3 separate regions of the Homo sapiens genome follow, and all the other regions are linked to region 2. The links come from fine-mapping of genetic effects on gene expression. A gene starts in region 2. Each other region holds a variant in brackets. All regions are shown on one strand. Distances are between the middles of the regions.

Region 1 (8,175 bases), 68 kb after region 2:
CCTTGGTTCCCAGGCTCCAGATGGGACCCCATCATAATCAGCTCTGGGGAGGGATGTGAGAAATAGAGAAATACACTCACTCATCAAAACCCAAAGAATGACTTAGAGGCATGAAGAACAGCGAAAGTGAGACTTTTAATAACGGTCTTGCAAGATGGAGTGTCTGGTAGGCAGGCACCCCTGGGGCAGTCACAACAGGAATTTATCTCCTAGTGTGCAAGTCCCTCCCCCACTTCCCCATTGGTTGAGCACTATGGGGTTACAATCTTCCCTGACGTCGCCTAAGTTTCATTTTCCCCCTTACAAGGTTATACCCCGCTCCCCTTCGATTTCCCCACTTAAGTTTCGATTTCCCAATAACAAAACTTTCTTCCCTTTCATGGGCTGACCCCTCCTCTACATTCTGTTCGCTTATTGTGTCCTTCTAGGTGCATGAGCCGTGTGGTTTGTTGCATTCGCAGGTTGGATGCCAGTACTTAGACTTATCCTGCCTTGAAAATGGACCATTGAAAATGTTTTCTCACCAGGATGCCCAGGCCTTTCCCAGATGCCTGATCACACATCAGACTAACCCAGAAGCCACAGGCCTGGGCCCTGCCATCCCTTTCCTGGAGGGTTCCCCAGTCTGTTTCTCCTGGTGGCTCCAGGCAGTGAGGGGTGCCAGGCTGTCCCAAGTAAGGCAGCTGAGTCCCGTACCCTGAGGTGGGTGAGGGCTGAGGTGCCCCCTGTAGCTTGGGGGAGGGCATTTCTCAGGCAGCTCTGAGAGTCCTCAGACTGTGCACCTGCAGGAAGAAAACCCAGGCCCACCTCTGCCCTTCAGCCCAGGCCTGGCCGAACTCTCCTTTGTGACCACAAATTGACTCTGCTCTCCCAGCTGCTTTCCCACAGGCCCCCCGAGCTGGACAACCTGCTCAGGACCCCTCCAGCCCCAAGGACATTCAGGATTGACATCTCTGGCCTTACGTTAGGACACATCCTGACTGGACAAGTCTCCGCCTAGATAAGCATCTATGTCCCCAAGACAGGCATGGAGACAGGTCCCTGTGGCCCCGGTGGTTACTTGATAGCAGTGAAGCCACTTCTGCTAACTTAAGGGATCTCCCTCCACCAGGCCCACACACCTTGGCTTTCATTCAAATTACTTCCTCTTTCCCAAGGGCACAGAGCTGCTCTCCCTACTCTGTGGCTCCCCCAGAAAACTCCTACTCACCCGGCAGGGCCCAGCTCAAATGTTCTTGCTACTGAGCAGCCTTGCCTGCTCTGTCTGGGTCAGAGGTCAGCACTCCCCTTTCTCTGCAGTGTTAATGTCCTGGAGTTGAGGTTGGTCCTCCGTGTCTCTGTCCTGCTGGTGGACTGGAGGCTCCCAGTCTCCTGCCTCGCTATTTGTTCAGAGCCAGGCATGTACTCGGAGGGGTTCAGTAACACTCACCCAAAGGAAGACACAAACATCCACTGAGCATCTGCCGCACACCAGACAGTGGCACGTGGGGCAACATGGAGGCTGCCGAGATGAAGGAGGCACAGTTTCCGCCCTGCGCAGGTCCCCTCCTTGTTTCAGCCTAGAATCTTTCTAAATTCCCTATTTACTTCCTCTAAGACTGACTATTCATTCTGCTCATCTTTGGACAATCTTAAATGTGTTTCTGATCACATTTTTGTTCTTTTTCACAAACCCAAATAGCTCTGATTTTGTTTCTGTTTCCTCTAAACTAGGGTTTCTCAAACTCAGCACTATGGTATCTTGGACTGGATAATTGTGGTGGGATCGTCCTGTGCTGTGTAGGATGTGAGCAGCATCCCTGGCCTCTACCCAGTAGATGCCAATAGCAACTCCCCTTAGTTACAGCTACCAAGTTTCCAGACATGCCAAATGTCCCCTGAAATCGCCCTCAGTTGAGACCACCATTCTAAACTATCTTACTATGATTCCTTCCAGCCCCAAATCAGCCTTTCCAGCCCCAAAGCTTTGTTTCCCTTTTCTTCTCTTTCTATGCCACATTCCTTTTCAATGAAGGACATCCTCCTCGTCGTGGGAATGTATTATTTCTGACTAATTATCTGAGCTGGTAGGAACCTTCCTTTGGCTCCATTAAAACAACAGAGGGAGGTGGGAACAATCAACATGACTTAGGTATCTAAGCTATTACAAAAGGAAAATATGCTCAGGAAATAACAGGAATTTGATTGCAGACAGCTCAGAGAGTTCGGGATTCTGGCTCTAGCTCAGCTAGCTCGCTCCCCTGGGGCTGGCACATCTGCGGGCACCTGGCCTGATCACCCTGCCTGGCCCTGAGCCTGCCTGTGTGCAGGGAAGCTCAAAACCTTTGCCCTTCCGGAACAAGCTGGCCATTCACAAACCAGACTAAGGCTCCTTTCCTGTGTGTCCTGTGTGTGCATCTGGCCCCGCCCTGGGCATCTTGGGAGCGCCACCATCCTTCCTCCTGCTGAAAATCCACCTCTCCCCTTTGCCTTGGATCCTTCTCTTTCTACAGCTCAAAGAACCTGGCATTGCACAGCCCAACTCTGTCTTTGTTTTTCTTCCAGCCCCTTCTTCCTTGCCTATAAGGTGTTCTACTCCAGCATATGCTAAGTACAACCATGAAGACCCATGTGTGCTCAAGGACAGGAACTAGGAGTCTGTCACCTCTCTCTGGGCCTTTCCTCATTCCCACACACTTCTCCAGTGACCTCCTTTTTCCCTCCACCCCTCCACAGTCAGACCACTTGGGTTGTCCTCACTTCCTCCCCCCAGTCACCCCTCAATCTCTGCAGGGTTTCTGCCTCCAGATGTCATTGACACTGCTCTCCTCAAGGTCACCAAGGACATTGCTGTTCCTGAGTATAATGTCCATGTCATCCTCCTCTCCCTTGATCACCCAGTTTCTTTCATCCCGCTGCCTGCTGCTCCTCTTGGGGGCCCCTCACGCCACTCTCCTGCTTCCCCTGTCTCTCCAGCTCCATCTCCCCGGCCTAACTTCTTGGCTGAAAGGCTGTGTCTTCTTGGAGCCCTGACCTGGGCCTGCTTCCCCTCCCATGCTCTCCCCAGGTATCTCCTCCATCTCCAAGGTGTCAGTTACCATCTTGTGCTGACGATTCCCAAATCCATATCCCCACCCGCCTCCCCAGAGCTTCAGAACTCTGGCCAGCACACCCTGGGCCTGTTAGTGTCATGCACAGCTGTCGCTGCTTGCTATGTGCTTACCGTGGTGCACACCTGTGTTAAAGACTTGACCAGGGTGTCTCATTGCAACTTCACAACCACACCTTGAAGCCCCCCAAGTGAATGGCACCCCTGGAGCAGTTCAGCACGACAGCCCTGGATCATATCTCCACATTCATAGGATAATAGGTAAACTGAGGCTCAGGCAAGAAAGTGAGTGATCTAGCAGTAACAGCCAGGTGGGGCTGGCTCTGAAGCTGGCTTTACCCTCAGTGCTCAAGGGCCAGCCCCCAGCAGCCAGGAGCACGTTCTCTTCGGACATTTACCCCAAGCACATTGGAAATATTTCTCCCTTCTCCCCCACCACAGTTCACCAAAGCAGCAGCCCCTCTACTCACTGCCCCACACCCTCATCCTCAGCACCTGCACACCCAGGCCAGGGGAAGAGATGGGGACTGCAAATGTGCATGGCAGCCCACAGCACCAAAGGACAGTGCACACCCATGGCATTTCACATCGACTGCCAACTAAGTGCTTGGCACACCATGGTTCATCTGCTCTGAGGCTTGCGTTATTTTACAGTTTCACCTCTCTGAATTTGGGATGTGTCTCCTAGGCAGCCTTGTGGCTTCATGGCAATGTCCATGTGGCTTATTAAACCGTAGTATATCTTACAGCCAGTAGCCACTTTAGATTTGGTAAAATATGTTACACTGTCTCATCAGAGCCTCATAACAAGACTCTGAGGTGGGTGTCATTATCCCCATTTCACAGCTCAAAAAACTGAGGTTCAGAGAATGTGTTGCTCAAGGCCACACAGTTAAGAAGGTGCAGAGCGGGGACTAGAACCCAGGTCTGCTTGCTCCCTGGCCCTGTGCCTCTTCTGAGCACAGTACAAGGGCATGGGCTGTCCCACCTACTGTTCCAAGTTCCTTTCCCACCCCACACTAGCCAGCACCAGCCCCACCTAGGGGATGGGGCTCTGCTTCCTACCACCCACCACCAGGGTCAATCAGGATCAGATGAGTTGCCTCTGCTGCTCCTCTGAACTTTGGGGCTCAGGGCAAATGTCTGGGGTGCAGACAGGCCCTGCGAGGAGGGAGGGGCCCAACACTGCCTGGGCTGTTGCTGCTGCCCTCAGTGACAGCAGGCCTGGATCCTTCCCCCTCCAGTACTTCGTCTTCGACTTCCATGTCTCTCCGGATGTCATGTTTGACAA[G/A]ATCATCAAGATTTCGGTGAGTGGGGAGCAGCCCCTGGCCGGCAGGGCCACTCCCTCAAACTGCACCTTTGTGCAGACTTGAGAGGGGCCCCCTCTGTCTAGACCCATGATAAAGAGGCAGCGCCGTGCCTGGACACACGGCTGGGCAAGTAGGGACAGGCTGGATTCTGGCCCCCACCCACCCCTTTCATTGGATGCCTCTGAATAGTGCATTCGCCCGTAAACAGTGGCCAGCAAGAAACTGGCGTGGGCAGGAGGAGCTGATGCTGAGCCTCAGTGAGCCACCCCACTCTGCCAACGCCCTCCCACTTCACCACAAAGCTCGGGTCCCACCACTGCCCCATGGAAAGCCTCACCCTTGCTGGGCCTGACGGGTGGGCTGTGGTTCTGCCTGAAAGGTGATTCACTCCAAGAACCTGCTGCGCAGTGGCACCCTGGTGGGCTCCTTCAAAATGGACGTGGGAACCGTGTACTCGCAGCCAGGTGAGTACCTGCGCATGGCCAGTCAGTCGAGGTGTGCATGGCTCAGGGAGCGTGGTGCACGGGGCCCTTCCCACTGTGGCAGTTCCTGGGAAAAGGCTGGCAAGGACCACAGTCTGGCGACTGTTAGTACACACAGCCATCTGGCCTGCGGAGAAGTGGCGCGCACAGTCTGTACACAAATGCAGTGAGCAACTGCGCACCCAGTCTGGTGGGTTCTCACTCATAATTAGGTGAGTAACTCTGCACAGAGCCTGGAAGGAGCTTCATCACACGCTCTGGAGTGCATGGCAGGCTGGTGCATCACTGGCCATAGGCAGGCTGACCAGTAGTGGTAGAGGATGCGGTGAGGGAGACCCGTCACAGCCTGCAGAGAGGCTGCGCCCAGACTCCTGCCTCCTGGGCTGGCACCTGCTGAGCAGAAAAGAACCCCTTTCCACCCCTCACAGGACCCTGCCGTCCCCTTTTACAGTTGAGGCTCAGAGCCAGGGCTTGCCCCAGCCACACAGCTGGCCGGGGGTGAAGTCAGGCTGTGTGTCCCCAGAGCCTCACTGAGCCACACTATCCAATCTGAAAGCGGTGATGCTGGTCAATGCCAGATGTAGTGCGGCGGCCTCTGAGGGACTCTGGTCTCTGAAAACACTTCTTACAAGAGCCCCAGGCTTTTGGGCAGCCATGTGTGCTCCGTGGCGTCCTGTAGGGTAACAGCAATGGTGTTGGCAAGGGAACCCCAAGGGGTGGCCCAGAGGGCTTGTGAGGTGGGCCAGGCAGAGGAAGTGCCTCAGCCTGCCAGATGACAGCTCACCACGTGGGCAGGTTAGGGACCACCCTGTGTCCCTGAAGTGAATGCACTGCTCAGAGTGCTGTAATGACCCCATTAGGCGCTTTGACAGTGAGAACATAATTTCACCCAATTGTCACATTGGGCCCTCACAAAACAGTAATGTAGGCAGCAGCATTTCTTCCCATTTTGCACATGAGATAAATGAGGCTAAGAGAAATGAAGGGGCTTAGAGATACCACTAAACTAGTAGGTTGAACAAATTGGCGATCGCTTGTGGTTCAACCTAAGAGACGTCCAGCTGGTGCACATTACAACTATGACTTAGACCAGGGAATCTGAGTCCAAAACCAAGATTATACACATAAAAATCACAAGATCATAGAACACTCAAGCTGCCCAAGACCTGAAAAACATCTAGTCCAGCCTCTGTGAAGATAAACTGAAGCCCAAGGTGATGAAGGGGTTTGTCCACCATCTAGGAGTAGCACCCCTGTCTCCAGCTCCCAGGCCAGTGCCTTTGCCACCACCCCACACATGCCATAGCCCTCAGCGGAGGGCAGCCCTGCTGACCATCAGTGCCATGGGGAGCAGGGAAGAGTCGGCCTCCTGCCATGTTGCTTTCCAGGAAGCATGCATAGCCGTGGACTACTTGCTTGGAATGACTGGCATCCCTGAGGATAAGCTCCTCCCAGGGCTGAGCAGTGGCCCTGGTACCACTGGCAGGCCTGAGGCCGAGAGCCAAGAGAAAGTCAGGGGGTGGAGAAAAAGGCAGATATTAGTCTAATATGGACCTCTGGGCTTCTGGGTAGTAAAGTCCTGGTGAGGAAACCACCAGGGCATCAGTAAGTGCCAGATGTTGGGCTAAGCTCACTGTCCCAGCAGGCCTCACCCTCACGACCCCATATAGGCATCATTCCCATTTCACCATAAGGAAACTGAGGCTCAGCAGGCTTAAACAGCTGGTCCAGGGCCACATTGTGAGTAAGCGGCAGAAACAGGATGTGGGCCGAGGTCTCCACTTGGGTAACCTAGCTCGAGATTTGCTGCTTCTGCTGAATCCAGCCCTGAGCCTGGTGCCCTCCCAGGGACAGGAGAGCCTGAAGTCACATGGGTCCTGGAGTTGAGACCCAATGTCTTTACTCTGATATCTCCAGTTTGGCCTGAACTTCTTGATGAGTCGTTGGTTCCAGCCAGGGCATTGTTGGACAGCATGCTCCCAGAGACACTCCTGGGTGCTGCTGGGAAGCTTTGGGTGGTGTCGATATCTCTTGGAACTGGAAGGGGTTTCCCGAGAGAACCTCTTCTCACCCTGGCAGGACCACATTTTGTCATTTGTACCACCAGATGCAACATCAGGAAACTGTTTACTGTTTGCTACTCTCTGTTGGGGGTGAGGACGGGCCATACACTCATCCTCATAGATCATAGAGGAAGTCAGGGGCATACACTCATCCTCATAGATCATAAAGGAGGTCTGGGATGCAGCAACTTCCCCAGCTGGGCTACCCTTGACTGGCAGGTGTCAGCCCCAGGCTGAAGGGAGGTGAAATGATGTTTCAGGCTGGTAAGCATATAGCTCAGGATCTCATGTGGTCCTTGTATCTCTAGCCTGAGATCACACAGTATTAGGACTAGAAGGGCCTCAGAAGTCATGAGTCAAGTGTTAACCTGATGTAGGGACCCCCACAGCACCATCTCTGATTGGTCCTCTAACCTTGCTTAGTCCTCCCAGAAATGGGGCACTCACTACTTCTTATTTTAGATATCTTCACTTTCTTTAGGTCATCTCAAAATCTGTCACCCTGTAACCTTCACCCACTTTCACACGTCTCTCTTTCAGGACAAAAAGAAAAATAGCCTTTAAATTTGAAGGTAAATTTTACATTCCTCCTGAACCGTATTCTCTTTCTTTGCTAAATGTCCCCAATTCATCTAACCATGCACACCTCTATACATCTACCCCTGTATCCATCCATCCACTCACCCACCCATCTACAAATCCATCCACCCACCTGTCCACAGATCCACCCACCCATCCATGTATCCATCCATTCACGCACCAATCCATATATCCATTGGTCCACCCACCCACCCATCCGTGAATCCATCCACCCACCCACCCGCCTGTCTACAGATCCACCCACTCACCCATATATCCATCCATCCACCCACCCACCCATCCATATATCTACCCACCCATCTATCCACAGATCCATCCACCTACCCACCCATCCACAGATCCACCCACCCATATATCCACCCATCCACCCACCCATCCATATATCTACCCACCCACCTGTCCACAGATTAATGGCTCCTTCTATCCAGTAATCCATTCACCATCTGTCCGTCTATCTCTCAGCCGGCCAGGCAGCTCACCACCCATCCCTCTGCCCATTTATGCACCCATTCATTGAGCTTTCTGTCCATCTCCTCATCCGACACACATCTGCTCTGGCAAGACCTGAAGCTCCTGGGATTCCTGGGACATGGCCCCTCCCTGGAGGCCTGCCAGCCTGGCTGAGGTTCTCC
Region 2 (8,175 bases):
GCGTGTGTGTGTGCGCGCCTTGCGAAGAGGAGCATTTTTCATTTTTCTTCTTAATCTCTAGCTGATGGCTTCCTTCTCACCTCATCATACCTGTAAACTACTCCACAAGAGGCAAAAAGAAAATCATAGAACGTCTGGGTGTGTGATTTACATTTGTCCCCAATGCTGCCGTTCATTTTGGGGATGGCATCCGCAGGGGTAGCGCTTGCCCCAGAGAGCAGGCCTGCTGAAGGCCCACCCCCTGTGTAATCCTCCCTGTGACTGCTTCAGCCTCCACATTTGAGTTTCTCCAGGGACCCTTACACCAGCCTTGGTGCCTAGGGCAGGCACAGGGCCTTCGGCTTTTCCATAAGGGGTGAGGGTATGGGGACAGCTTCCACGGTGCCAGGCTCTTGGTGACTCGGGTGGAGGCCCTGCCACCCCAGCTCCCTCTGCAGCAGTCCTGGTGTCATGAAGAAGCCTGGCAGTTCCCACTTTGTCTCCAGGTCTTGCTTCTTCCCTTCAGATGCCGGATGGAGAGCAGTGCTCCCCTCGCACTTCGGTTCTGTAAATGGCAGTGGATGAAGACCGCAGACGCTACTGGGTTCACAGAATGTGGCTGCCACCAGCATTCTCCAAAGACTTCCCCTGGCAAATGCCAATGAAATGAAGGGGAGCCACAGGCTTCCCAGAGGCTCAGGAAGCAGAAACACTGAGGCCTGGTTGGAAAGAGAGCTGTAGGCAAAGGAACGGCTGCAAACAAACTGGGTGGAAGGAAAATCCATCCATCCTTCAGAATGCAGTCATGTCTGTATTTTTCTAAATTCTCATTGGGGAACATGTTCTACAATAAGGAAAACATGAGTCAAAGACCCCCAGCCCTGGTGAGGTTGACCGCCTACTTCCTCCCCCATTCAGGGCTGCCCAGCCAGTCCTGCTGGTAAACCCACCACCCTGCCTTCCACCTGCCTGTGTTCTAGTCCATCTGTCTCGTCTGATTGGGATCCTGTGCCATCCATATCATATTCATCCCTGAATCTCAGCACCTGGCTCTGGAAAGAATTCAGTAAATGTTCATTACATAAATTATATACTCAGTTACCAAAATGGGTAACAGAAGAATGGAAATTAAAAAGTGGGTTCTGGCTGGGAACGGTGGCTCATGCCTGTAATCCCAGCATTTTGGAAGGCCGAGGCAGGCGGATCACTTGAGGTCAGCAGTTTGAGACCAGCCTAGCCAACATGGTGAAACCCCATCTCTACTAAAAATACAAACATTAGCTGGGCATGGTAGCACATGCTTATAGTCTGACCTATTTGGGAGGCTGAGGCAGGAGAATCGCTTGAACCCGGGAGGCAGAGGTTGCAGTGAGCCTAGATCACTCCACTGCCCTCCAGCCTGGGTGACAGAGTGAGACTCTCTCTCAAAAAAAAAAAAAAAAAAAGAGTGGGATCTGTCTCTTAGGTTTTCAGAAAGGCCAGCTGACTCCATTGAGAGCTGCTGAGTGGAATTGCTACCATTTTATGGATGTGGAAAGTGAGATTCAGCATAGATCAATGCCTTGGCTAGGGCAGGATCATGGGCTTTTTCCTAAAGATGCACAGGGTCTATAAGAGGCCTCATGAAATTCACTCCTTTCAGGGGAGGACCTCCAGAGAACCAAGGAAGAAGATATTTTCTGTTGTTGTTGTTGTACCTTGTAGTCACCAAGCCTTAAAAACACAGATCACCTGATGACCTCATGGATGGAAAATGCTAGTGAATTTAGGTGTTTTTTTTTTTAAGACATTAAACTTATCTAGCTTTTGAAAATTTAGCATTCATACTTGTATTCAATAAACAGAATACTCTAAGACATTTTTAAATTCAATATGATTAGATAAATGTGAGAAAGGTAAGCAAGAATTGGTTAGGAAAAAGTGCAAAGGAAAAAAACGTAAGTAGAAAAAGAAAAATAGGGCACAGTAGCAAGGAAATATCTAGAAGGAGGAAAGAAGGCTCTTGGGACATACTGTAGGTTATTTGGAATGCAGAATTCAAAAGAAGTAACCTCTTGTTACCATGCTGTGAAAAATTAGTATTTCTCTTTTTAACCTTTAGACTCTGTTTCAGGTAGATCCCTGAGCTCACTCTTTTATCCTTTCAACAGTAATTGGGCATCCTACGGTGCACAGGATACCATGTGGGGCTCTGGGGTAGAGGGATGCTGTGCTCCAGGGCCCTCCTGAGGTCAGGAGGGGAAAAGGCAAGGGAAGCAGCCCCAGGACTCAGTAAGATGAGAGGAGGCAGGAGCAGCACAGAGGAGGACCCCAACCCAGCTGGGGTGCGGGTACAGAGGCACCTCCAGGAGCAGGCACTCAAGCTGAGTCCAGGGTGGGGTGGAGGGCATTCCACCAAGAATGAATAGCAAGAACAAGGCTGCAGATGACCCTGCACAGATTCCAGCATCAGGGATTCTGGCCCCCAGCGTCCCTTTCCTTGGTGTATGCTGCTGGAAGACAGGAGGGGGCAGTTCTCTTTTGGTCCTTAGAAATTTCCCTATAGACATCCCTTCTCCTGCCCCTAGCAGCTTATAACAGCAGAAGGCCATTCAATTCTGCTCCTCTGGCTGGAAAGCAAACATCAGCCTGGCTTACCTTCGCTAGCCTGCCTGACCCCCAGCCTTGGGGTGGGGCTAGGTTAGTGCCCTGGATCCTTAAACATGGCCCCTGGTAGCACATAAGCCTCTGCTGCCTCCACAACCAGCCATCTCCATCATGCATGGCCTGGTCCTGAGCCTCCCCTCAGGCAGCAGCCCCAGCCTCTCTGCTTCCTGAGATTCAGAAACAGGGATCCCAGGGCAGGGCTCAGGGCCCAGCCTCTTGGGGGCACAGTCTCCAGCAGGGAAGAGGTGGGCGTAGGTGGACAAATACATTCCCTTCTTCTTGTAGTGTGCCCCTGTGGGTGGGAGTGCCCCCCGCCCCACATCCACCCTACCTATGCTCATGCCCACTCCTCTGTGCCCACTACTGGTGGCAGGGCTTGCTTAGCAGGGAAGCAGCAGAGCCCTGCAGAGGGGTGGGCAGAGCCTCCCTTCCAGGAGCTGGGAGAAGACACCTGAAGCTGGACAGAGCTTTATCTGGGAGCCGGCGGCTGCTGAATAATGAATTCCAACTCTGCCGCACTCCCAGGCTGCACATTGGGTGCACACACACACACACACACACGCACACACCGATACACACACGCTGGGCTGACAACTTGGAGGGGCGGGGGCTGTGAGGCTCTGTGAGTCGCTGCAGGAGCAGCTTAGCTCGGCTTGGTTGCCTTGGTCTCTGTGGGCAGCATCGGAGGGGGGTCGGGAGGAGGAGGAGGAGGCAGCGGCAGAGAAGAGAGAGGCGTGTGAGCCGTGCTCCACCGGCTAGCTCCTTCCCGCTGCTCCTGCCTGGCAGTGCCAGGCAGCCCACACCAGCATGGCCTTGCTCATCCACCTCAAGACAGTCTCGGAGCTGCGGGGCAGGGGCGACCGGATCGCCAAAGTGACTTTCCGAGGTAGGGAAGCCGCTGTCTCAGAGGGACGCCAGCTCTGAGAGCTGGACCAGCCCATGCTCTGGAGGTGGCCGGGGATAGGACAGGGCTGGGAGGATGGGTGGGAAAAGTTCTAGCAGGGGCTGGGGCGACGAGCCTTTTCACAGGTAGTCATCTGCCTGGGACTGACTGGCCATTGTGATTTCTGGAAAATCAGGGTCCCCTGTTCTTCCATGCCTGTGTCTCCTTGTGCTTGCCAACATGCCAGTTCCCCGGGCAGGGCACAGAGCCCTCTGCCTGGGGAGGCAGAAGTGAGGACCACATCCCTGAGCTCAGGGAGACCCAGGACCCCCTCCTTCTCTCTCTCTCCCTCTCCTGCAGGTTGATTTCCTTGAGCACAGGGTGGGGGCCGGGTATGGAGCCTGGGGCACCCAGGGTGACTGGGAGAAACCAGGCAGCCAGTAGCTCCCTGGGCCCCAGAGTGATGGGGGACACTGTTGGCTTCTTTTAGATCTATTCATGGGCGGGAACCCCGGGAGCCCCTCGCCTCTCTTCTGTCTGGTCTTTTCTCATCCTTTTCACTCCTGTATTCAGCGACCATTTATTATGATCTACTGTGTCCCAAGGATAGGGGTAGAAACACAGAGCTGAGCACAACCCAGCCCCAGCCCCAAGGAGCCTGCATCTGTTGGGCAGGCGTGGAACAAGCAGGACAGGTATGTGAGACAGAAGGTGGGGGTGCAGCATGCAAGCTACAGAAGCAGCACCCTCACCCAGGCTGGTGACCGGTGGTCAGGGAAGGCTTCCCGGAGGAAGTAACACTCAGCTAATACCCGAAGGACCAGCGGGTGGGAGCTAGGAGAGGAGGTAAGGACTGAGGAGGCAGAGGAAACAGTGTGCCCAGAGCTGAGAGAGGAGCTGAAACTCTGGAACTGAAAGAGGTTCCATGTGTCTACAGCTCAGAGAGGGTGCAGGAGCGGAGGCCAGAGAGCCAAGCAGGGCAAGGAGGCGAGGCTGGACCTGACCCCGGGGACAGCGGAGCCCCTGAGCATTTTAAGTGGGGAAAGGCAGGGCCAGGCTGACTCTGTCCTTCACCACCCACCTCTGCCTCTCCATGTGGTTGCTGCCCAGCCCTGAGGGTTGGGGGTACTTCTCACTAGACATGGCCCCTTCTCCCGAGAGAGGGGTCTGAGAGTGGGATGGGGACGAGGTGGTGAGAAGGGGGCAGAGAGGACCCCCCTATACTAAAGAGCAAAGTGAGCCTTGGGGCCCAGGCTGGACACAGTGTCTGCACCTCTGTTGGAAGGGATGGGAGAGACCATTGGCAGAACATTCCAGCAAGAGCCCTGGGGCACCCACATCACCTACCCAGAGGCCCTGGGATGCCCACATTGCAGCTTGTGTTCATAGGGACAGGCAGGGGTGGAGGTGATGGCAGTGGCCCTGCCGGCAGGCGGAGGTTAGGCAGGAGGGAGAGGGAGGTGTGGGCTGGGCTGCCTTTTGCCTCCCACCCCAACCCACTGACTGCTTTCTCTGCAGCACCCTGGATCTCCCTCTGTGTGCCACCTGCAGGCTCATGCTGGCTTTAGAAAAAGCAAATGTGTCCTTTCATCTGTGAAATGTGGCCCTGAGCTCCACGGGCAGCATAGTGTGGGGCGGTTAAGCTACAGGTTGCCATCCTGCTGCAGCTGTGCTGGAACGGTCCAGGCTGCACCGGACAGGCCCACTTGCAGGCCGAGAAACCAAGGTTCAGGGGTAGAACACTGCGCGTGGCATTCACGGAGGAGCTGAGGCACGGTGGTCCCAGCTCTCAGGACCTCATCCTGAGTACTCAATCTTGCAAGCTCTTTATCTGCTCCTGGGCCACCTGGGGGCCAGCACCTTGTCTGACACCCATCTTCTCCTTGGAGCAGTGAAGGGCTGGGCCTTTAGCCTCACTGACCACACAGGAATTAGTTTATTTGCAACCCTTGCTCTCTGGACTGAGTGGAGAAATCGCTTCCAAGCTCCACATTGGCAGGAGGTGGCCATGGGCAGAGCTCCTGGGGAAGGGGGCTGGGCAGCAGGAATAGGCAGATGACAAGCAGTTTCCAGAAAGTACCTTTATTACAACGAAAGATGCCTCAGCCGCTCACCTGTGTCATCTAGCAGTTCACAGTTGTAGGCGCCCCAAAAGACCAACACTGACCACAATTCAGAGGGAATGGACCCGCTCTACAATGTTCCTTAGCATCTCCCAGCACATGCAACCACTGGGGGCCAAGCAAGTCCTCTGCAGGGGGAAACAAGAAACTGGTAAACACGCAGAGGGAGACACTGGCCCCAGGCTCCCCAAGGCTTTTGAGTGAAAGTCAATGCCGGGGGAGGTGGTGAGGGAGCCCTTGGTGAGCTGTGCCCATTGGCAGTGGCCCTAGGTAGGCCAGAGCAGCTGGTTGAAATATGGCTTGACCTTCTGTGCTGTGCCATCCAAGACACTAAGGAAAGAGCCCTCCTGGGCTATTGTGGAAAAAGTTCTGGATATGGAGTCAGAAGCCCTAGATCCTACCTGGGTTCTGCCACTCACCCTCAGTTTCCTCATCTGTAAAATGGGCATGATAATAACACTCACTTCACTAGATTGCTTCAGGGAAACCATAGGTATGGAAGAGTTTGTGGGAAGAGTATTCAAATGGTCGATGTGTTTGTGAGGCAGCCATTCCCATTCTCCTTGGGAGCAGCTGCTGGCCCCTGAGGTATCTTCTCTCCAGACCAGCAGAGGGCCCCATGTGAGATATAAAGGGAAGAGGAGAGCACGTCTAAGGGGTTCCAGTCTGCCAGGAGAAGGCAGAGAGCCTGGACTCTGCTCTGTAGGAGCCTCTGCTGAGATGTTCCGCAGGAACCCAGGCAGGCAGACCCCCGAGACTCCTGTTCTCATCTGGCTGGGTGTGCACCAGCTTTGCCCGTGGCCACCTCTTTTCCCACTGCCCTCAGGCCAGTCGGCCCCTCGGTCAGTGCTCCCAGCCAGTTCTGTATCTAGCTCTTAGTTCTTACTGCCCCTGGCTGCTCCTAAGCTGGTGCTGCCCTGTTCATGCATTTCCTGAACATGCTAATATTTGTGCACAGGCCTGGGACCCTGAGGTGAAGGGGCCAGCCTGGCCCTCCAGGAGTCACAATCCCATTGGGTCAGACAGGAGATAGGGAGTCCTGGGCGAATCTCTATTGTGCCTGCAGGCCACAGGGCTCAGCTGGGTTTCTCATTAACAAAATGGAGACAGTGGTCCTCATTTAGCTCAGAGGCCTGCAGTTCCCAGGAGTAATCAAGAGTGGGCTATCTAAGAAGGAGCCATCTTGACCACAGGTTGCTACTCAAAGAGAGGAAGTATTAGCTTCAGGTATTTCCTTTATCAACTCCTGAGATAGTTCCCTACATCAATCACAGAGCCACAGAACGCAGGGTGTGAAGGGTCCCGAAGTTCTTCTAGTCCAACCTTCTGTCCAGTGCTGAGCACCAAGGCTGGGGGACCTGGACTGTAAGGGAACCAAGTGACAGACAGTCCAGGGCCAACCCTGATGTCTCCCTTCTCTTTCTATCCCCTGAGCCTTCTTGCCAAGACATGAGGTTTGGGGATTTTCTGTGTGAGATAAGAACATCTAAAGGCTGGATCTGGCTTCCACATAATTCACTGTGGCTGGAAATTGGCACAAAGGTTTGCAGGGCATCCCCCTCCACCTTTTCATTCTTACTCTTCTTCCCACCCTCCCCCTGATTCCCACCCTGCTATGTTCCCACTACATTCAACTTCCAGCCATTCCCAAAAGATACCACACCCTTTTACACCTCCAAACTTTGAGACATCGATCATATTTCTTCTGCCTGGAATGACCACCCTCCACCTTGAGAACGCCCATTAATTCTGCTCATCCTTCAAGGCCCAGCTCATATGCTACCTCCTCCATGAAGGAGTAGTACTTTGCACACAAAGTACTCCTCTAGCAGTACTTTGCACACATTCTTCCTACTGCTCTGCCAAGGTACATTGCATTTCAGAAACTGGCCACACCTCTGCATGCTGCCCAAGCTTTTGAGCATCTTCAGGACAGACATCAGACATGGTTTCTGTCTTTGAGGGATTCACTGTGTCATGGGTTTGAGTTCTTCCACTGTGGCACTGTCACTCTTTGGCTCCATTTCCCCAACTGTGAGCTCTCACCCCAGAACTTTCTATCCAAGGAGGATCAAGGGACTGGAAGAGGCCTCAAGGGCCAAGAACCAAGAACCTTGGCTCTTACTCCTTCCATCAACTTCCCTAACCCAGAGAATCTTCTAGGGCTCCAGAGGGGCCTAACGATTTTTTTTTTTTTTTTTTTTTTTGAGTCTCGCTCTGTCGCCAGGCTGGAGTGCAGTGCAGTGCGATCTCGGCTCACTGCAACCTCCAGCTCCTGGGTTCAAGCGATTCTTCTGCCTCAGCCTCTGGAGTAGCTGGGACTACAGGCACACGCCACCATGCCCGACTAATTTTTGTATTTTTAGTAGAGACGGTGTTTCACCATATTTCCCAGGCTGGTCTCAAACTCCTGACCTCATGATCCGCCTGCCTCGGCCTCCCAAAGTGCTGGGATTACAGGTGTGAGCCACTGCGCCCAGTCAAGCCTAACAAATATTAGCAAGTTCAGCTCCAGCCCATAGGTGGGAAGCAAGAGGGATTGCG
Region 3 (8,175 bases), 82 kb after region 2:
CCCTCAGCTCCACCTACAGGGTGAGGCTGTGTTTGGGACCTGGGGCAGAGGGCAGGGAGAAGCCCTTCCCGGGGCTGGAGAGGAGAGAGTGGGAACTCAGGCCACAGCCTGGGCCAGGGCTGGGCCTCGCACTCAGGCGTCATGAGGACTCCCTGACTCTCAGCGGAGTGGGGACACGGGCTAATGCTCTCTGGCTAATGATGTGTCACGTCTGAGCCCCATTCCCTGACTCTCCCTCTCCCCTTTCCCAAACCCAAGGCAGCACCGGATTGGACGGTGGGAGGGGCCTGGTGGGGAATGCACTCTAGGCCTTCTGGGCCCATTCTGCTCCAGGCAACTATGGGAACGAAGTTGATGGCCTGTCCCGGCCCCAGCGGCCTCGGCCCCGGAAGGAGCCGGGGGATGAGGAAGAAGTAGACCTGATTCAGAACGCAAGTGATGACGAGGCCGGTGATGCCGGGGACCTGGCCTCAGTCTCCTCCACTCCACCAATGCGGCCCCAGGTCACCGACAGGTGGGCCCAGCCTCCCATCCTCCTGTGGCCTGGCCCTCCCACCTCCCTGGGCCCCCAAGACCTCACCTCCCGCCTCTGCCCACCCCAGGAACTACTTCCATCTGCCCTACCTGGAGCGAAAGCCCTGCATCTACATCAAGAGCTGGTGGCCGGACCAGCGCCGCCGCCTCTACAATGCCAACATCATGGACCACATTGCCGACAAGCTGGTCAGGGCCAGGCCAGGGGCCAGCAGGGGTGGGGTCCTGGGGGAGACGGCGCTGTCAGAGGGCCTTCCCTGGAACACACAAAGCTGGTCTGCCCAGGGGGCTGCAGGAACGGCCCCAGCAGGACCTCTGTTCCCATTCTCAGCCCCAGGTCCCAGGGCACAGACAAGGACAGGAGCCACCTCTAGTCACTCAGCCTCCAGTGAATCCTGGGGCAGGAGTGTTGGGTTCCCTGATTTTTCCAGAAATCTTAAAAGCAAGGCTAGGGAGACAGGTGTGGTGGCTCACGCCTGTAATCCCAACACTTTGGGAGGCCAAGGCAGGTGGATCACCTGAGGTCAGGAGTTCGAGACCATCCTGGCCAACATAGTGAAATGCCGTCTCTACTAAAAATGCAAAAATTAGCGGGGCTTGGTGGCGGGCACCTGTAATCCCAGCTATTCGGGAGGCTGAAGCAGGAGAATCGCTTGAACCCGTGAGGCGGAGTTTGCAGTGAGCCAAGATGGCGCCACTGCACTCCAGCCTGGGCAACCGAGCAAAACTTCATCTCAAAAAATAAAATAAAATAAAATAAAACAAAATAAAAAAGCAAGGCTAGGGAAGGGAAATGGGGAAAAGGGAGAAGCGAGCAGTGTCTGAAGCTCAGGAGCTGCCCCCTCCTCCTCTGCCCACCCCTCTCCCCCCATGAGCCATGGGCACTGACTGGGCGAGGAGTGCAGCTGTTGGCATGAGACCTCCTTCTCCCCAGCCTGGGGAAGCAGGGACCAGCAGATAATCCCGCCCTTCCCTGAGCTGTTGCTGTTCCCTGTTGAAGTTCCCTGAAGCTCAGCCAGCTCATATTTTATAAAAATGAATTAAAACCTCCAAAAAAATCAAGGCTAATATGAGGTCTGCTCCCAGCCCCCTGCCAATGTCCTCCTTGTCATCCCTGTCTTGTGACTATAACCACAATTAAAGCCCATAGCCTTTGCAGTGTGACCTGGGTCTGCAGTTATCTGCAAGGCTTCCCCCTAAGGAGCTGGGGTACAAGCTGACCTGTGTTTCCTGTGGGACCTGGGTCTCACAGCCCTCCCAGTGCTCTCAGAGCCAGAGCCACTCCCTCTTCCCCCAGGCATCTGTTCCCATCCCCTGCCACAGGCTCCAGCATTCTGGAGTGACGTCAGGATCTTGGCACATCCAGTCCTAGGGTTTCCCTCTGTCTCTGGCCAGCCCTGAGCCCCGTAGCCGTGAGTTCTGCCCAGGCCCTGTGAGCTCACCAGAGCCACAGACTCACAGCCCAGAGGTGGCTTCTTCCTTCAGGAACTGAAGAACCCCCATGAACACCAACATCTCCAGGTTCTGAGAACAGAACCTGGGAAATTGATGACTTCCTCATGATGACCGATACTCAGGATGGCCCTAGCGAGAGCTCCCAGATCATGAGGTCCCTCACTCCCCTGATCAACAGGGAGGAGGCATTTGGGGAGGCTGGGGAGGCGGGGCTGTGGCCCAGCATCACCCACACTCCTGATTCACAGGAAGAAGGCCTGAACGACATACAGGAGATGATCAAAACGGAGAAGTCCTACCCTGAGCGTCGCCTGCGGGGCGTCCTGGAGGAGCTGAGCTGTGGCTGCTGGTGAGAAGGGAGGGGCGGCAGGTGGGGGGAGGATGAGGCGGAACTGGACAAAGGGGACCCTGCCAGGGCTGGGCAGATGAGGAAGAATCTACAGAGCCCCTGCTGGTCAGGCTCGCTAAACCCCGGCTCGCCCTACCCCCAGCCGCTTCCTCTCCCTCGCTGACAAGGACCAGGGCCACTCATCCCGCACCAGGCTTGACCGGGAGCGCCTCAAGTCCTGCATGAGGGAGCTGGTGAGGACGCAACTGGACGGCGGGGGCTGGAGGGAGGGCCTGGTTGTGAGAAGGTGTCACAACCCCCTTTGTCATGGCCCGAGCTGTCCCCCAGTTGCTGGGTTCACTGACACCCCCTCCTTCGCAGGAAAACATGGGGCAGCAGGCCAGGATGCTGCGGGCCCAGGTGAAGCGGCACACGGTGCGGGACAAGCTGAGGCTGTGCCAGAACTTCCTGCAGAAGCTGCGCTTCCTGGCGGACGAGGTGCGGCCCAAGGGGTCGGGGCTTTGCCTCATCCAGGGCTGGCTCTCTGGGGCCCCTCAGGATCAGGGGGCTCAATCAGGAGGCTAGACCCCCTTACCCACTGCCCCTGGCCACCCCCCAACCCCCAGCCCCAGCACAGCATTCCCGACATCTTCATCTGGATGATGAGCAACAACAAGCGTGTCGCCTATGCCCGTGTGCCCTCCAAGGACCTGCTCTTCTCCATCGTGGAGGAGGAGACTGGCAAGGACTGCGCCAAGGTCAAGACGCTCTTCCTTAAGGTGCTGGAGGGGGCAGGATGGATGGGGGCCTGGGTCCTTTCAGGGGAGCAGCAGCCCCCACCTGGGGCTGGAAGCCTGAGTGACAGGGTGGGGCCTTCAAGCAGCAGGTGCTCAGAGAAGAGCCAAGAATGGGAAGGACGTGGGGGAAGGGGTGGGGAAGGAGGTGGGGGAAGGGGTGGGGGAAGGGGTGGGGAAGGAGGTGGGGGAAGGGGTGGGGGAAGGGGTGGGGGAAGGGGTGGGGAAGGAGGTGGGGGAAGGGGTGGGGGAAGGGGTGGGGAAGGAGGTGGGGGAAGGGGTGAGGGAAGGGGTGGGGGAAGGGGTGGGGAAGGAGGTGGGGGAAGGGGTGGGGAAGGAGGTGGGGGAAGGGGTGGGGAAGGAGGTGGGGGAAGGGGTGGGGAAGGGGGCATGACGGCCCCCTGCCCATCCTCCTGCCTCCACCGGACCCCAGCCCAGCGGGATGGCTGTGAAGGGGCAGGGCAGCTCTGACCAGGGCCTCTGCCGGCCCCTGCCCCTTCCCCACCTCTTGGGCCCTGGCAGCCGTCAGGCTCCTGGTGACCCCATGCCCACCCCCAGCTGCCAGGGAAGCGGGGCTTCGGCTC[G/A]GCAGGCTGGACAGTGCAGGCCAAGGTGGAGCTGTACCTGTGGCTGGGCCTCAGCAAACAGCGCAAGGAGTTCCTGTGCGGCCTGCCCTGTGGCTTCCAGGAGGTCAAGGCAGCCCAGGGCCTGGGCCTGCATGCCTTCCCACCCGTCAGCCTGGTCTACACCAGTGAGTGAGGACCCCTCACTCGAAGCCTCACCTGGGAGGGGGCCGGAGGGGCTGCCCATCCTGGAACCTCAGGCTGCCCTTCCCCACAGAGAAGCAGGCGTTCCAGCTCCGAGCGCACATGTACCAGGCCCGCAGCCTCTTTGCCGCCGACAGCAGCGGACTCTCAGACCCCTTTGCCCGCGTCTTCTTCATCAATCAGAGTCAGTGCACAGAGGTGAGGGCCTGGGAGGAGGGAGTGGCTCTGGCTTTGAGAGCACCAGAAGCCTGTGAGCCTGTGGGGACTGGAGCCTGTGGGGCCTGTGAGCCTGTGGGGCCTGGAGCCACAGGTCAGCCAGTGCCCCGGTTTCTCAGGGGAAGCCCTGCAGATAACTGCAGCAGACGCGGGTCACACTGGAAAGGCTACGGGCTTTAGCTGTGGTTATATTCACAAGACAGGGACGACAAGGAGGACATTGGCAGGGGGCTTGGGCCAAACCTCATATTAGCCTTGATTTTAAGATTTCTGGAAGAATCAAGACACCTGTCACTCCTGCCCCCAGGTTCCGTGGAAGCTGAGTGAGTAGGGGTGGCTTCTGTTTGTGCATCTGCCCCCCCCTCTGTCACTTGTCCCCTGTCTCCCCATCCCATGCTGCAGGTGCTGAATGAGACCCTGTGTCCCACCTGGGACCAGATGCTGGTGTTCGACAACCTGGAGCTCTATGGTGAAGCTCATGAGCTGAGGGACGATCCGCCCATCATTGTCATTGAAATCTATGACCAGGATTCCATGGTATGGGTGGGCTCTGGTGCCAGGGACCCCAGCAGCACCACACCTGGCCCTTGTTCCCTGCACTCCACCTGCGCTGAGGCTGTGCCCTCACCTCCGCCACCCACCTGCAGAGCTCCTTGGCCAGGTGCTGGCTGGGAAGCTGGGAGTGGGGGCTGACATCTAGCTCCTCCTGCCTGCTTGCGGCAGCCTGACCCCTTCCCAGGCCAGCACATCCTCACCTCCTGTCTCCTACAGACTGAGCCCTGGAGGTGTGCCAGCAAGTCCTGCTGTCACTAGCCTCCCCACCCCAGGGCTCCCCGACCCCTGCCCTCACCTACCACAACCAGTAACAGCCTTGCCATCCTCCGTGGAGGTTCTGGAGCAGGGAGTAAGGGATTGGGGTGACCCCCGAGAGTTAGCGAGCCACCTTCTCACATACCACCTCAGCTGCTGAGGTGCCCAGATAGCCCTGGACTAGAGGTAGGAGGACCTCATGTCTAGTCCTGAGCCGGGCATCTGCCATTTACTGACTGCTTGGCCTTGAACAAGTCTTTGGTGGGCCCTGAGACTTGGTTTCCTCATCTGTAAAATGGGGTGATCACACCTGTCCCTTACAACAACTCATGGCGCTGTGGTAAGGACCAAACGAGATCACAGGTGTGGACAGCAAGCACCAAGAGGCTTCTGGGTTGTCTGTTGCGTCAGGGCAAAGCTGACTTCATGGGCCGGACCTTCGCCAAACCCCTGGTGAAGATGGCAGACGAGGCGTACTGCCCACCCCGCTTCCCACCTCAGCTCGAGTACTACCAGATCTACCGTGGCAACGCCACAGCTGGAGACCTGCTGGCGGCCTTCGAGCTGCTGCAGGTGGGACTGCAGGGAAGAGGGGCTGAGGCCTGGGGACTGGAGGCTGGGAGTTGGGGCCTAGGGCTGGGGGCTGGACCCTGAAGGCTGGGGCCTGGGGTCTGGGGCCTGGGGGTGGGGCCTGGGGGCTGGAGGCTGGGGCCTGGGGCTGGGGGCTGGGGCTGAGGGCTGGGGCCTGGGGCCTGGGGGGTTAGGGCCTGGGCGTTAGGTCCTGGGGGTTGGGGCCTGGAGCTGGGGCCTGGGGGCTGGGGCCTAGGGGCCTCTCTCCTACCCATCCTGACCAAAGCTGGGGGCGTGGTCCTTAGGGGGTTTCCCTGTCTCCCCAGATCATGGCAAACAACTCATGGGGAAAGAGACCCTGTCCCTGGGCTCCCCAGTGTGTGACCTGTGACCCCCATTCCCCAGATTGGACCAGCAGGGAAGGCTGACCTGCCCCCCATCAATGGCCCGGTGGACGTGGACCGAGGTCCCATCATGCCCGTGCCCATGGGCATCCGGCCCGTGCTCAGCAAGTACCGAGTGGAGGTGCGAGGGCTCTGTGTGGCCCTTCCCTTTTGGATGAGGAGTCTGAGGACCCAGGAGGGGAAGTGGCTTGTCATCCCCCTCCCACCACCATCACCAGGAGCCAGCAGCAGACCCAGGCTCCTGCCCCAGCCCAGGGCCTGCCCCCATCTGCACCAAGTCGCACTCCCATGTCCCAGGACCATGCCCAGCCCTCCTGTCTGCACCCCTGACCCTGCACCCCTTCTCCGGGCAGCCCCACCCTCATCCCTGGAGAACGCCTGCCCCTCCTCTGCTCTCCTGGCCCTGCTCCCACCCTTTGAAATCTGGGGTGAACTACTGCCCATCCCACTGCCCGGTTCCCTATTGGATGGTCCAGCACCCCCATGGCTGGCTCCCTTGACTAAGGGGCTCTCTTCTCTGCACCCACCCTCCAACCTCTCCCAGGTGCTGTTCTGGGGCCTACGGGACCTAAAGCGGGTGAACCTGGCCCAGGTGGACCGGCCACGGGTGGACATCGAGTGTGCAGGGAAGGGGGTGCAGTCGTCCCTGATCCACAATTATAAGAAGAACCCCAACTTCAACACCCTCGTCAAGTGGTTTGAAGTGGTGAGTGCAGGCCCTGGCGGAGGACATCCTGTGGCCAGTGTGGCTCCACTCAGCCAGCCGGCTTCCTCTGCCCCTTCTTGGAGGCTCAGGCTCCTGTCGCCAACACCCCAGGACCTCCCAGAGAACGAGCTGCTGCACCCGCCCTTGAACATCCGTGTGGTGGACTGCCGGGCCTTCGGTCGCTACACACTGGTGGGCTCCCATGCCGTCAGCTCCCTGCGACGCTTCATCTACCGGCCCCCAGACCGCTCGGCCCCCAGCTGGAACACCACGGGTATGGCCACATCCACCCTGCCACCAAGCCTGGCTCCACGCCCCCCAGGGAAGGGCTCCAGGTCTCCGCCCAGTCCAAGCCGCGACCAGAGTTTGCTCTTTGGGGCCGAGGGGGTGGGCATAGAAGAAGGTCACCCTGGTGGCCAAGGAAGGCTGCCCAAGGTGACGCCAGCTCTACAGCCAGAGAGGGCAGAACTGGAGACAGCCTGGGGGGGCCTGAGGGCAGAAAGCCCCTTGCGCTGGTTGATGGAGAAGACCCAGGCCTCCCCGCCACCTCCCTCCCACCGGCCTCCGCAGCTTCCCCTTATCTCGGGCTCTCTTCTTCCCTCCCCATGCCCATATTTTCTCCCTTGACTGCCTGTCCCCCTCTCCCTCAGAAAGTTCCAGAATCAGCTTTAGTTCTCCGCACCTTCCTGCCCCGCCAATCTCACTGTTCCTCTTGCTCCTTCCTCTGCCTGTCTGTCCATCTATCCATCTGTCCAGTCAGGCTTCTCCGGCGCTGCCGTGTGCTGTGCAATGGGGGCTCCTCCTCTCACTCCACAGGGGAGGTTGTGGTGACTATGGAGCCAGAGGTACCCATCAAGAAACTGGAGACCATGGTGAAGCTGGACGCGGTAAGGCGGGTGGGGTCAGCCCCCTGCTGGCTGGGAACATGCAACTTCGTGTGACACATCCTGTGAACCAGACTATCTGCCCCGAGAGAAAAGGACACTAAGAGCCTCCTTTGGCATGTGACTGTCGGGGGCTGAGCTTGATTGTGTGTCCAAACAGCTCCCTCCTAATACTATCCTGGAATGCACACGCGTGCGTGTGGTATGTAAATGTGCATGTGTGTGCGCATGTGTGTGGTGTGCATATGTGCATGTGTGTGTGCATGCATGTGATGTATGTGCATTTGTGCGTGCATGCGTATGTGTGGTGTGCATATGTGCATCGTGCATGTATGCATGTGGTGTATGTGCATGTGTGTGTGCATGTATGTGGGGTATGTGCATATGCACGTGCGTGCGTGTGGTGTGCACATGTGCATGCATGTGTGGTGTATGTTCATATGCACGTGCATGCATGCATGTGGTATGAGCATGTGCATGTATGTGTGCATGCGTATGGTGTGCATATGTGCATGTGGTGTGTGCATATGTGTGTGCATGTGGTGTGTAAATGCATATGTGCATGTGTGCAGTGTGCATGCATGCGGGTGGTAGGTAAATGTGCATGAGTGTGGTATATATGCATATATGTGTGCATGTGCGCTTGTGTGCATATGTGCATGTGTGCATGTGGTATGTAAATGTGCATGTGTGCATGTGTGCATGTGGTG

Which allele goes with the higher level. Alleles are on the strand shown, and positions count from the first base shown. SD is a standard deviation of normalised expression in the study named. Not every link is listed here.
In carriers of allele G in region 1, the expression in testis of the gene that starts at base 3,248 in region 2 tends to be higher than with A alone (moderate effect, 0.62 SD a copy in GTEx).

Evidence for each region. PIP is the estimated chance that this variant, and not a neighbour inherited with it, causes the effect.
Region 1: its variant is fine-mapped to the expression of OTOF in testis (GTEx, PIP above 0.99).
Region 3: its variant is fine-mapped to the expression of OTOF in whole blood (TOPMed, PIP above 0.99).

What each region holds. Positions count from the first base shown.
Region 1 is chr2:26,485,898-26,494,072 of GRCh38, reverse strand. It overlaps OTOF (otoferlin), which reads left to right. Exons shown (of 47, transcript NM_194248.3): 10 at 4,333-4,395; 11 at 4,778-4,862. Among named protein-coding and RNA genes, the nearest start is that of OTOF, 69 kb to the left of the region's middle. RefSeq lists an enhancer at 278-427 and a silencer at 4,025-4,267. The variant G/A (reference allele first, on the strand shown) is at 4,380.
Region 2 is chr2:26,553,829-26,562,003 of GRCh38, reverse strand. It overlaps OTOF (otoferlin), which reads left to right and starts at 3,248. Exons shown (of 47, transcript NM_194248.3): 1 at 3,248-3,511. The coding sequence starts at 3,433. RefSeq lists enhancers at 2,301-3,093, 3,094-3,887.
Region 3 is chr2:26,471,812-26,479,986 of GRCh38, reverse strand. OTOF (otoferlin) reads left to right here. Exons shown (of 47, transcript NM_194248.3): 17 at 334-514; 18 at 603-723; 19 at 2,238-2,338; 20 at 2,481-2,571; 21 at 2,699-2,815; 22 at 2,944-3,096; 23 at 3,670-3,859; 24 at 3,949-4,073; 25 at 4,494-4,628; 26 at 5,313-5,474; 27 at 5,877-5,996; 28 at 6,420-6,581; 29 at 6,693-6,855; 30 at 7,338-7,468. Among named protein-coding and RNA genes, the nearest start is that of DRC1, 74 kb to the right of the region's middle. RefSeq lists an enhancer at 2,239-2,428. The variant G/A (reference allele first, on the strand shown) is at 3,696.